4 linked regions of the Homo sapiens genome follow. The protein of the gene in region 3 interacts with the protein of the main gene of each other region in a pairwise test. Each region holds a gene or a part of one and is shown on either strand. Other genes may lie near its edges.

Region 1 (3,500 bases), on a different chromosome or scaffold from region 3:
GCCTGGCCCACAGGGCAAAACCCCGTCTCTACTAAAAATACAAAAATTAGCCAGGCATGGTGGTGCACGCCTGTAATCCCAGCTACTTGGGAGGCTGAGGCAGGAGCATCGCTTGAACTCGGGAGGCAGAGGTTGCAGTGAGCCGAGATAGCGCCACTGCACACCACCATGGGTGACAAAGCGAGACTCCATCTCAAGAAAAAAATGAAAGAAAGAAAGAAAAGAAAAGGAGATGTCTGCTGACTAGTAAATATAAAAGGACCTGAAGTAAGGAAATTATCCAAAGCCCAGACCTTTTCTTAAGTAACACACCCATTTAACCAAATCCACCTTCATGTTAATATCCTGAAAGACCTAAACATATCTACCATACGTCCTCCTCCTCCATCTCTCTCACACACCCCCAAATAAGATGCATTTCGTCCTCATCCAGACATCCACCGTTTCTCAAATAGCACCACCATTTCCCCAGTTATATAAGCAGAAATCTCAGACATTCATACCCTTTTCTCTCAGTGCACATAGAGACCACCAAGTCTCACAGATTCAACCTAACTTTTCATCACCTCCAATACCATGACCTCAGTCCAAGGGGTCACCACTTGCCAGTACTGCTGCAGCCGCCTAATTCATCTCTTTCTCCCCTCTAGTATAATTTTACATTGCTACCAGAATTATTTTTAAATGCAAATGTGATGTTATTCGATTCCCTCCATCTTTACTGCTCCTCCCCTCACTTAAAAACCCTAGTGGCTCAGGATAAAAACAAAACTCCTAACTTGACCTACTAAACCAGCACTACATTCATCTTGACTATTTTCACCACTGCCACGCCGACCTCTTTCAGTATGGTAAATGTTTCACAGTCCCTCCTGCTACCGGATATTTGAACATGCATTTTCCTTTCTTCTTCACCAGGATAACTTTTACTCATTGTTGGAATCTTAGTTCAACTGTGACAGCCTGATCGAAGACCCTTATTTTACATTCTCGTAGCACTATATAGCTCTTCAGGGGTACACTTTATTCTTCTGATTATTTTATTAGTATCTATCTCTCTTGTTAGAACTGCCCCATGAAAACATGGCTTGTGTTTCACTCACAACTGTAGTTCCAATATTTATTCATCATACCTGACATGTAGCAGATACTCAAATCTAATCAAATTAGATCCATAATTGAATGAATTTTAAAAATAAATGAATTTGGAAGTAGAAACACATTGAAGTGGACAAAGGGATTATGTCAAAAATAGAAACACAGATTTTAATTATTAGATATGCATATTGTTTCTGGTGTGAGTAATCATGATGCCACTAAAAAATAAAAATAAAGCCAAGTGCAATGGCTCAGGCCTGTAATCCCAGCACTTTAGGAGGCCAAGGCAGGAGGATCACGCAAGGTCAGGAGTTCGAGATCAGCCTGGGCAACACAGCGGCACCCCCATATGTACGTAAAAAATTAGCTGGGCATGGTAGCATGCACCTATAGTCCTAGCTATTCAGGAGGATCACTTGAGCCCAGGAGGTCACGGCTGCAGTGAGCCAAGAACGTGCATGCCACTGCACTCCAGGTTGAGCAACTGAGCAAGACCCCATCTCAAAAATAAAAATAAAAAATATGGGAAGAAGAGTAGGCATGGGTAGTAAAAATTTTGAGATATTTTGAGTTTAGAATATCATATCTGTGCAATATTCAAATCTAAATAGTGAATAAGTTGTTTGAGTATGTGCTCTTGACTGACGGTAAAATGTGAATTAAAACAGACTTGGGGGTGTAGCAATACCTGCAGAGAGCAAGGAAGATAAAGAGAAAACCTCAAAACAATGAAATGAACAAAGAAAGTTCACAGAGTGAGATAAATGAAACCAAATCAGAATCTCAGAAACATGAGCATTTGAGGAAAATGCCACAAATAAGACAATAAATGGAGCAAATAAGAAAATTAGAAGACAATGCTGTTATAGAAGCCAGAAGAATTGAGGGTTTTTTTTAGAGAAACTGTCGGTACTGTCAAGAGCCAGGGGGAGGTCAAGTAAGATAAAAACTGGAAATGATTAAGTTAGCAATAAGTAGTGAGAGGATAAAAGTACCGTGGACTAAGGAGAGAATAAAAGGTGAGTAACTGGAAAAACAGTGAATATGGACTATTTTTCCAAAAAGTCTGAATGCAAAGGAAATGAAGGACAGGGAGAGACACATACTAGAAAGAGTTATGGTCAAAGAAGTACATGTCTGCTCATTTGTTTTTAAAATCAAAGACTCTGGTGTATTTATATGTTAAAACAATGCAGCCAGTGATTGAAAACCAGCAGGAAAACATCTCATGGAACATGGTCTGAGTCATAAGGAATTTTACCTTAGCCAGCAAAAATAGAGGAACAAAGAACCTTGGGTATGAGCAGGGTTTTTCTTTCTCAGGGAAGAAAGTATGGATGTGTACAGACTAACAGGTGTTACAAGAGGAAGGCACATCATGGAAGAGATGGTATGTCTTACTGAAAAAAAAAAATCTGACTTTTATTCTGTGAGCAATTGAGAGTTACCTAAAAACTAAGGAATGGAGTAATATATGATTAAAGATTACATTCATGTCTTTAGAGCCCCAGGCGTTTTGTATAGCCACTGGGAAACATGAAGAGCCGACTGGAAACACCTAAAAATGTGCTAAATATCCATCCAGAGGAGTATTCTCTAATTTCCCCCCCGCCCCGTGCTGCTTCTATGCAGATGCACTAGCTGATGTTAACACCATACGTCCCTCGATCCCTCAGAGAGCTTAATTTTCTTTGTTGATTTATTGTTATCGGCCACTCTCAACATAAGGATTTTGGTTTATTTTCGTCTCTCTCTGATCATTAAGAATATATTTGAAATTTATTTTAGCATTTTATAAACTTTCTTCTTCAAACTTTTCTACAAAACTGCTAATAGGGGTCAGGTGCGGTGGCTCACGCCTGTAATCCCAGCACTTTGGGAGGCCAAGGCAGGCGGATCACCTGAGGTCAGAAGTTCGAGGCCAGCCTGGCAAAATCCCGTCTCTACAAAAAATTCAAAATTAGCTGGGCATGGTAGTGCATGCCTGTAGTTCCAGCTACTCTGGAGACTGAGGCAGGAGAATTGCTTGAACCCGGGAGGCAGAGACTGCAATGAGCCGAGATCGAGCCACTGCAACAGAGCAAGACTCCGTCTCAAAAAATAAAAAAATTTAAAAAAACTGCTAATAGGTAGAAAAATAAAATGTGTAATACATTATAAATGGAATTTTATCATGTAAAAAATTTTAAAGACAAAAAAAATCTTTCACATAAAATACCAAGTTTCAAATCTGAAATCTAGGTAAAATTACTTCCAAGGTTTAAACAGAATTTGAAGTAAAGCAGCGTCTACTTCTTTTTCTTTACTAACACAAGTGATCTACTTCAGAATTCATTACATCGTAAATGCACTTTTATATGTTAACGACTGTATAAAACAAACTTTTTTTTAAATACTGAGGT
Region 2 (3,500 bases), on a different chromosome or scaffold from region 3:
TTGGAGTTGAACCAAATGGGTTTTGTGAGAGACTGAACCACACAGGTAGCCTTGGTTACAGGAACTCCTACCTCGCGTTAACAGTCTGAAAAAAGCCACATGTAAATTAAGTAAAGGGTACTGTGGGGGTAGAACGACACATGGTTTAACTCACTGCAACTGGGAGAGAGAACAGGGAAGGGTTTAGCAGTATCTACTGCTAAAGAGATCACACATGACGATCCTGGCTAATATATAATTTGTTAAAAAGTAATACTACTGAGAAATTATAAATTTGCTGACTTAATGAACACTAGAGATCTGCTGTTTTTCTCTTTGATTTGATCATAAACTGTATTTAAAAACCCCTAAATATTGGCAAATCTGTACTATCTCCCCTGTTCTACCTAGTAAATGTTACGCAATTAAAAAACCCCAGGCTAGGAGACCTCAGAGCTCATCCTCCTCATGTAGTAGCTTCTGTGAACTGCTGTTAATGTTTTGTGACCTTGTTTGCTCCTTCTTCCCATTAATAGGATACAGAAACAAACTCTGCCTTCTTCCCATTAATAGGAAAGGTCAAATCTGCCCAAAGAAGAATAAATAATTTTTTAAAAGATATTCACACTATACTTCAAAAAAACAGCTTCATTTGACAACTAGTTACACAAGCCCAAATACAAGAAGTCATTCTTCATACTGCCTTCTCTTTGATCTACCATTCCTAAAGCATCACCAAATTCCCTCAGTTTGACCTAAGTATATTTCAAAACTGTCCACTTACCTCTATCTCAAAAGATACCACCCTGATCTTAGCCACTATCTTTTCTTACCTTTATTATTGTAATAGAATACTAAGATGTCTCCTTTTATTCACTTTGGTCCTCATACAACCTTTTCATCTACAGTTACAATGACCCTTTGAAAACAAATCTGATGTCACTGACCTTACTGAACCTCTTCAATATTCTTAAAATGGCCTACAGGGCCACACATGTTCTGGCTCCCACCTGCTCTGTACCCTTACCCTTGGCCAGAGCTCCAGCCATGTGAGGCTTCTCTCAGTTACACCTGAATTCTCTAGGCTCCCCACTGCAACAGCATTTTTGTACAAACTGGTATGTACCTCCTAATTACCACTCTGATCTACCTTAAGTGTCATGTTACTAGGGACACTGTTTCTAGCCCTTTAATACTTTCATGGAACTATATTCTTTTGCTTCAGAAAACAAATTTCAATTTGCAATTATTCATTAATGGAATTATTGTTCTTAGTGAATGTACTTTTATTAGATTCTGAGCTTCCTGGCAACAGTTACCTTTTGTTTATTTTCCTCACTGTAAACCCGGTTTTTAGCACAGAACCTGGCACATAGTAAGTACTCAGGAAATGTTAGCCAAGTAAATGAATGAATTAATGAGTGGGCCTTATCACCAAAATTATCCAAGTAGAACAATGCAATAGAGGTTACTATTTTGTCTTCTTTGGAAAGATTCAAAATGATGAAAATATATTCCCACTCAGTTGACATGTCTGTCTACTGAGTAAGAAAGTTAGATGATAAAATTTTATAAAGTCCTATGCCTTCCCATTCCTATTTTTCTTTTTTCTTCCCTGTAGCCTGAAATTAATGTTATTCCTTCATCTCTGCTTTAGAGAGGCAACATTACTTGCATAAGGTCCCAGAAATAAAAAGTGGAATAGCCAGGACCTGAACCAATAGTGTTCTGGTTGCAAATATAGTCAACCCTCCATATCCATGGGTTCCACATACATGGATTCAGGCAACTACGGATTTACAATATTTATTTAAAAAAGGGATAGTTGCATCTGTACTGAATGTGTACAGAGTTTTTTTCTTTCTTGTCATTATTCCCTAAACAATATAGAATAACAACTATTTACATAGCATTTACATTGTATTTGGTATTACAAGGAATCAAGAAATGATTTAAAGTATACAGGAGGTTATGTACAGGTTGTATGCAAATACAACACCATTTTATAAAAGGGACTTAAGCATCTCTGGATTTTGGTATCCACTGGGGGTCCTGGAATCAATCCCCTACAGATATGAGGAACAACTGCATTGAATTTTTTTCACTCTACCAAATGGAATTTCCTGCATTTTGTTATTTTTTTACAGAATTGTTTGTTAAAGAATTTCAAGAATATTTGACTATAAGTACTAACTTGGGATCTTATCTAGTGATATAAAAGCAATAAAGTGAATAGTTAGCCAAACAACGAAATACAGATTTTTAAAGAATAAAACAAGAAACTCTGAGCTGCCCAAATGTTGCTGACCTTTCTAATCTTTGTTTTGTTTCAAACGTTTTAGCAAAGTTTATTTAAGGCACTTCAAGACTACGAGGTCCTTCAAAAGCAATCACATTGGAAAAAAGCTTACTATCAGTTTCTCTTGCTTTCATTTCCTTCCCTGTAAGGACTAAATCCCAACATTGGGCATATGCGTTACACTAGTAGCTATGCCTTCAACTATCTCACTTCTTTAACAATGCAAAAAATTCACCTTGCCAGAGAATAAATTTGGATTAACAAACCATTCCAAAGCCTTTAACATTATCGATAGGATGATATACAAAAATATAGTGCTGATATAGAAAATCAGAGTAATGCCAAATAGCACCTTAAAAATTTCTAATTTCCAATATTACCTATTAACATTCCTTTCATATACTCTTTGTAAGATTCCTTTGTTACCCATCATTGTGACTGTCCCAAATGTGTATCATTCCTCTCATGCTTTTCTACTACAACCCCAATGCTTATCATTTTTTCACCAAATAACCCTGTATCCTGCTTCACAGAGAAAAGAGAGACCCAAAAGCAAATTTCCCTAATTTCTCTACCCTCTCTCTCAAATGTATCTACACTTCTAATTCTCCCATTTTTGGTTTCTAGAACATGATTGTCCTACATCTTATGCTATTTCCAATTTGTCTGAGGCCCTCTCTAATTTCTCTCATTATCTCCCCCAACTACCCCCCTTCCCACCGCTCCCACACACACACGGCACACATGTATGCCTAGGATTCTGTCCTTGGTCCATTTTATTCATTTAATCTATGCTTTCTCCTTAGGTGATTTCATCTATCCTAAGCTTCAGCTGCTACTTTTATGCCACAATACCCAAAGCTCTCCCTGTGCTTCAATTTTCTATTTTTTTTTTTTTACTCTGATCCATGGTTCCAACCAAATATGAGACATGTCCCTCTCCCTCAATGTCTTGCAAGAATCTCAAACTTCATTTATTGAAAGATAAATTCTTTATCTTCTTCCCTACTCCAACTTTTTCTTCTTCTTGAATTCTCCATCTTGGTTAACATTTTCCAATCTAGAAATCTCAGTCACTACTGACAACTCATTCTCTCCTATCTCCAATTACCAAGCTAACATAATGACCATCGACTATACTTCAGAAATGTCTAGCCAGCTCATCCCTTTCTGTTCTGTTCCACAGTTCAGAACCTTCTCAGCCTCGCCTAGATTATTACAA
Region 3 (3,892 bases):
AAACTTTAAGTGGTGATTTTTACAAAGGTATGTGTTTGGTAAGTGAACATTTCTCTGCATTACTTTTACAGTAGTAAAAAAACATTTTTTTAAGCTTTAAAAGTAGAAAAATTTTACCCTTAAATATTCAGAAAGACAAACATTTTACATACTTGTATATTGGAAGGGCACATCCAAGCATCAAAAACATCAGTCCGATTGCTCCTCCAAAGGACAAACTAATCAAAGCTGCAAAGCAAATAAAAAGTGCAACAGGAATATAAATTAAATATTATTTTTATTAATATCAGCAGTCTGAACATTATCTGTAACCTCAGAAGCAAAAATCCCTAAAACGTATTAATAGCAAGTTGCCATCAGAAGTGTAAGTTATCTAGTCTTAGAATAAGTCTTCTGTGGTATCTTCAAGGCAAAATGAAGTGACACTGGCCTTTTTTTTTTTTTTTTTTTTTTTTGTGAGATGGAGTTTCACTCTTGTTGCCCAGGCTGGAGTCCAATGGCTTGATCTCGGCTCACCACAACCTCCACCTCCCAGGTTCAAGTGATTCTCCTGCCTCAGCCTCCTGAGTAAGCTGGGATTACAGGAATGCACTACCACATCCTGTTAATTTTCTATTTTCAGTAGAGATGGAGTTTCTCCATGTTGGTCAGGCTGGTCTCGAACTCCCGACCTCAGGTGATCCACCTGCCTTGGCCTCCCAAAGTGCTGGGATTACAGGCGTGAGCCACCACATCCAGCCAGTGACACCGATTTTTAAAGCTCTAACCTACTGCTAGTACCCCACCATATTCCCCAGACGCTGGTTCCCTTTCTAAAGAGTCAAAGTCCACAGGCTCAATGCTCTTCTGGGCATTAGAATTATATTTACTTCACAGATCACTACAGTTTTGAAAAGCAGTATGTGGAGAAACTCCACATGCTCAAGTTTACTGGACTTTAGAAACCTCATCCTATAGGAAAACCTCTTCTAATCAGCTCCTGTTTCTGGCACATACACTCTCAATGTGCATAAAACTGACCAGAAAAAATGCCCGAGAATATCTGTAGTTAATGATTTTAATCAATTAATTTTGTTGCAAATCTTTAAATAGTTTGCAAAAGTAGAGCTGGGTTTCCTTCCCTAATCTACATTAGAAAATCTGTAGGACAATGGGTTATAATCCTTCTGAGGTATCACTACTTTAACATGTTATTATAAGCAATAGATGCATTCTACAGGTGAAATATAGTTTCTAAAGCTACGCGCGCACACACAGACACACACACACACACACAGCAGTACATTTTAAGGTGCTCTCACGTTAGTGAATAGAAACAACTTTCTTGAATAGGCATAGTTAACCAATGACCTAGACTAAAGCAAAGAAATAAATGATAGCCGAGTGCAGTGGCTCACGCCTGTAATCCCAGCACTTTGGGAGGCCAAGGCGGGCGGATCATGAGGTTGGGGGTTTGAGACCAGCCTGGTCAGTATGGTGAAACCTTGTCTCTACTAAGAATACAAAAAATTAGCTGGGTGTGGTGGCACATGCCTGTAGTCCCAGCTACTTGGGAGGCTGAGGCAGGAGAATTGCTTGAACCCGGGAGGCGTAGGTTGCAGTGAGCCTAGACTGCGCCTTTGCATTCCAGCCTGTGCGACAGAGCAAGACTCCATCTCAAAAAAAATAAATAAATAAGTAAATGATAAATTTATTTTGAGTTCTATATAACCTGTATTTCTACAGTTACAGTGGCTAAGAAAATAACTAGTTTTGTTGTTGTTAGGTCATTTTATTAAAATTCAAAAGTTAAAATTCGAAAGATTTGTAGAAGGTCTAAAAGTTACCAAAACAAAGGCTAACATAGAGAAACCAAAATGAACAGGAAACAAGTTAAACTTTGCCAAGTACTACTGATATACTCTGCACAACTAAAACAGTCATAATCAAGGACACCCCATGACATAGTGGCTTGGCAGATTTGGTTTTTGGTTAGATCGCTGATGCAGGTCATGGCAACCCCGAACACATCACTTAGTCCTGAATACCATTCTATTTCCAGCTACAGGAAAAGAATTGCATTTTTACTTTACAGCAAACGAGGCACTTCAAGTTTACAGGGGAATGCAATATAAACTGTAAGGAAAACACTGAATTTACCATTTGTTTTCTTCAGTTCCAAATTGGTTCTCATGACCGGGCCCTGCCCACCTCTCCTGTGACGTGTCACACCAGGCTACTACAGTGTCCCTGAACCCTCACTTCAGTTATACTGGCCCTCTTTCCTTTCCTGGAAATCAGCAGACTTGCTCACTCACGTGGCCTGTGCACACTTTGTCCCTTCTGCCTCAGACATTTTTTCATTCAAGAAATATTCACTGAGCACTAAATATGTGACAAGCACTAGGGATACAACAGTGAATGAGGCATGGTCCTTTCCCACTCCTCTCTACTTTCCTCCAACTTAACTCCTGCTTTTCCTTCAGATCTCAGCTCAACCAGTGAAGTGTTTTTTTGCTGGTTTTTTTTTTTTTTTTTTTTTTTTTTAAATGGAGTCTTGCGCTGTCGCCAGGATGGAGTGCAGTGGCGCGATCTTGACTCACTGCAACCTCCGCCTCCCAGGTTCAAGCCATCCTCCTGCCTCAGCCTTTCTGAGTAGCTGGGACTACAGCTGTGCACCACCATGCCTAGCTAATTTTTTTTTTTTTTGTATTTTTAGTAGAGACGGGGTTTCACCACATTGGCCAGGATGGTCTCCATCTCTTGACCTCACGATCTGCCCACCTTGGCCTCCCAAAGTGCTGGGATTATAGGCGTGAGCCACTGCACCTGGCCTCAGTGAAGTTTTTCCAAACCTCCTGATTAGACCAATTCCCTGTTATATTTATTTATTCATTCCTCTAACAAACATCTATGGAGCACCTAACGTGTGTCAGATACTGTTCTTGCTACTGGAGACAGAGCAATGACAACAATCAAAGCTTTTGCTCTCACGTTCTAGTGGGAGAAGAAAATGATTTTTAATAAGCAAGTGAATAAATGTCAAGTGATGACAAACGTCAGGTAGAGTAAGGGATGGGAGTGCTAGTCTAGATACAGTGGCCAGGGAAGGCATCTCTGATGAAGCACCACCTGAGCAAAGATCTGTATGAGGGGAGGGAGGAAATCATGTGGGTATTTGGGATGAGTATTCCTGGCAGAGACCCGTGTATGCTGAGGTCCTCTGTTCACTGAATGCCTCTCCTTTGCTCAATTATCAGCTGCGATTTCCTACTGGTTTGTATTTTGTCTTTCCTTCTCAACTGTCCATTTCACGAAAGGAGGGAGCAAGTTTTTCTGTTGTGATGATCGTGCCTGGCTCTTAACACTCAACAAATATTTGTGGAATGAATGTAGCAGAGTGGAAGCAGCATGGAACTGAGACTCTGGAGGGTCCAAGGCCCTAATAGTTACTAACTAGTTGTCCAAGTAATTTATGAGTCTCAGTTCTTCCTTCTCTAAAATGACAGTTGGACTAGATCTTAAATGCAGATAATTTTCTGAACACTAAAGGTACTGTTAAGACAGCTAAGTCCATTACTATAAATACTACCTAGTAACACCTCATTCATTCAGAAGCCATTTATACGCAACTTAGAATCCTGGAGAAAACAAAGGCCACTAAAAAGAGACAAAATAGATGTTACAAAGCCCATATACTAAAGCCAACATTCTCTATAAACAGACCCTTAAGTTCTTATTTATACTAACTCATTTTCGTGACACAATTGTTAGATGGGAATTCAGAGTAAAACACATTTTTATTTTAAAGAATCATCTATGCTCACTTATATATATTTTTCAATAGGTAATTCATATACCCAGAACAAAAATTAAGTGAAAAGGAACTTTCTCTTATCAAAAGTAATCACTA
Region 4 (2,857 bases), on a different chromosome or scaffold from region 3:
GAGTGCTTTCCTCTGTGGACGGGTCTTGTGCTGAGCCGCCACCCTGCTTGTAGTTCCCTTGACTCAGCTGTTGCCATAGTACAAGCTCATCTGTTCTCCCCTTAGCTCCTGAGCATTCACTGCACACGTTCTTTGCAGGCTCCGCTGGAAGCATGTCCCTCTGACTGTATGGCCTTCTGTCTATCCCTGCTAGATGGTGACCACAGCCCTGGCAACCATGAGCAGTCCTACGTGGGGAAGCGGTCAAACCGGGTGGTGCGAACCCTCCAGAACAGTAAGTGGAGGATGTGGCTGGCCTGGGCACCTAGGTGCTGTCTGCCTGGGCTTGAGGGACTGGCTTTGGTCAGCAGCCACCTTCCCCTGCCCCAGCCTGGGCCTGGCTCGCTCATCTGCCGCCCTTGTGTTCTAGCGCCGTCCCTGCACTCCAGGCACTGGGGAGCTCCCCAGCAGCGGGAGGGACGGCAGCAGCAGCATCACGAGGAGCTGAGTGCGACCCCCACCCCCCTGGGGCTGCAGGAGACCATCGCAGAGTTTTTGTACATTGCCCGGCCGCTGCTGCACTGTATCCTTAGCGCGGGGCAGGATAGGGCTGGCACTGTGGGCTGGGGATTGAGTGGGGAGTGTGCTGAGCAAGGCCCCTGTGCTGGAGACATCCTTGACGCCTTGGCCGTCAGTGCTCAGCCTGGGCCTGTGGGGTCAGAGGTCGTGGAAACCCTGGCTCTTGGCTGGTGTTGTGGACGTGACCAGGTGAGCCTGGGCCTGCCTGGGGCTTCACTCTCCACTGGGCTTTCTGCTATAATCCTGGCCTCACATAGGCGGGGTGGCAGCGGCCCCTGCTCCTCCTGTTGCTGCCCCTCTGGACACCCAGCCCATGGCTCCTCCCCTTCCGTGGGCCTAGATCATGCCCCTGGCCCTGACCATGTCCTCCCTGCCTCCCAGCCTGAGCCTCCTGAGTGACAGAAAGGGCCTGACCCGGAGGGAGCGGCGGGAGCTGCGGCGCCGGACCATCCTGCTGCTCTACTACCTGCTGCGCTCTCCTTTCTATGACCGCTTCTCCGAGTAAGCACCCAGGACACCCTGAGCCAGGGAGAGGGCTGGCAAGCGGGCACTGGTGCTCCGGTCCCTGCTGGCGCCTTCCCTTCCCCACGCCTCATCCAGGGTTCACCAAGCACTGTGTGTTGTCCGGGTGGCAGTCACCAGATGCCAGCCCAGTCCCGCCCGCAGAGCTCTCTGGGCCATCAGGCCACTTGAGCAGGAACTTAAACATTGGTTGGCAGGAGAGGCACTGAGGGCAGGGCTGAGGGCATTGCCAGGTGGCCCACAGGGATGGCGACAGGGCGGGCGCCCATGGCCTCTAGCTCATTTCCACTTCTTCCTGCCAAATAGTTTGGCTTATCCTCACTTCTCAGAGGAGGACCTGGAGGTTCAAGGAGGTTGGGCAACTTAAAGACACCCAGCTAGCCAGTGGTAGAGCTAGATCCCAAACCCAGGATCTCCCCTGGCCTTCCCTGCCTGGCCCAGCCCCCACTCAGTCACCTGCGAGGGTCCAGAGCTCCCAGCCTGAGAGAGGCCTGCTGGGTTGAGCAGGGGGCAGCTTGGGACTAGTTCTTCCACAGGCCTGCCACTATGACTGCTTGAGGTTAGACCACAGTCTGACAGGGGGAAACCCTGTGCAGTGGCTGGGACTGTGAGGCAGACAAGGCTCCCGGGACCCCCTTTGTCTAGGACCTAATAATAGCTTAAAAACTGGCATAGGCTGGGCAGCAGTGGCTCACACCTATAATCCTAGCACTTTAGGAGGCCAAGGCAGGAGGTTGGCTTGAGGCCAGGAGTTCGAGACCAGCCTGGGCAACCCAATTCTACAAAAAAAAAAAAAAAATAATAATAATTAGCCAGACATGGTGGTGTGCGCCTGTAAGTCCTAGCTACTCAGGAAGCTGAGGCATGAGGATCAGGCCAGGAGGCTGAGGCTGCAGTGAGTTATGATCACTCCATCCCACTCTAGCCTGGGTGACAGAGTAAGTCCCTGTCTCAAAAAAACAAAACAGAAAAAAAAAAACAAAACTGGCATAGTTTAGCCAGGCACGATGCCTCACACCTGTAATCCCAACACTTTGGGAGGCCGAGGCGGGCGGATCACAAGGTCGGGAGGTAGAGACCATCCTGGCTAACATGGTGAAACCCTGTCTTTACTAAAAATACAAAAATTAGCCAGGTGTGATGGCACACGCCTGTAGTCCCAGCTATTCAGGAGGCTGAGGCAGGAGAATCGCTTGAACCCAGGAGGCAGAGGTTGCAGTGAGTCGAGATCGCGCGACTGCACTCCAGTCTGGGTGACAGAGCGAGACACTGTCTTTTTTTGTTTGTTTGTTTTTGAGATGGAGTCTGGCTCTGTTGCCTGCCTAGGCTGGAGTGTAGTGGTGCAATCTTGGCTCACTGCAAGCTCTGCCTCCCGGGTTCATGCCATTCTCCTGTCTCAACTCCTGAGTAGCTGGGACTATAGGCGCCCATTACCATGCCTGGCTAATTTTTTTTGATTTTTTAGTAGAGATGGGGTTTCACCGTGTTAACCAGGATGGTCTCGATCTCCTGACCTCGTGATCCGCCTGCCTCGGCCTCCCAAAGTTCTGGGATTACAGGCGTGAGCCACCGCGCCTGGCCTGACCCATCTTTTTTTTAAAACAGAAAAAAGAGTAAGGCTGCTCCTTCTGGACCACACCCTGGCACCTCTCTGGACCCTGCTCCCTGTCCTTTAGGGAAACAAAGGCCCGCCTTGGCCTCCTAAAGTGCTGGGATTATAGGTGGAGCCACTGCACCCAGCCAGCCTTCTTCTTTTCTTTTCTTTTGTTTTTTGGGA

The links. The genes of interacting proteins can lie anywhere in the genome.
Region 1: the proteins of LEPROTL1 (region 3) and VAPA interact in binary tests that used the Homo sapiens proteins (3 or more experiments, as listed by UniProt).
Region 2: the proteins of LEPROTL1 (region 3) and SLC25A46 interact in binary tests that used the Homo sapiens proteins (3 or more experiments, as listed by UniProt).
Region 4: the proteins of LEPROTL1 (region 3) and PEX16 interact in binary tests that used the Homo sapiens proteins (3 or more experiments, as listed by UniProt).

The regions. Positions count from the first base shown.
Region 1 is NC_000018.10:9,917,016-9,920,515, reverse strand, and holds part of VAPA (vesicle-associated membrane protein-associated protein A), read right to left. Parts: intron 1-3,500. UniProt on the Homo sapiens protein: Endoplasmic reticulum (ER)-anchored protein that mediates the formation of contact sites between the ER and endosomes via interaction with FFAT motif-containing proteins such as STARD3 or WDR44.
Region 2 is NC_000005.10:110,749,007-110,752,506, reverse strand, and holds part of SLC25A46 (mitochondrial outer membrane protein SLC25A46), read right to left. Parts: intron 1-3,500. UniProt on the Homo sapiens protein: Transmembrane protein of the mitochondrial outer membrane that controls mitochondrial organization.
Region 3 is NC_000008.11:30,098,234-30,102,125, reverse strand, and holds part of LEPROTL1 (leptin receptor overlapping transcript-like 1), read right to left. Parts: intron 229-3,892; coding exon 153-228; intron 1-152. UniProt on the Homo sapiens protein: Negatively regulates growth hormone (GH) receptor cell surface expression in liver. May play a role in liver resistance to GH during periods of reduced nutrient availability.
Region 4 is NC_000011.10:45,912,021-45,914,877, reverse strand, and holds part of PEX16 (peroxisomal biogenesis factor 16), read left to right. Parts: intron 1-193; coding exon 194-274; intron 275-409; coding exon 410-562; intron 563-674; coding exon 675-747; intron 748-939; coding exon 940-1,059; intron 1,060-2,857. UniProt on the Homo sapiens protein: Required for peroxisome membrane biogenesis. May play a role in early stages of peroxisome assembly. Can recruit other peroxisomal proteins, such as PEX3 and PMP34, to de novo peroxisomes derived from the endoplasmic reticulum (ER).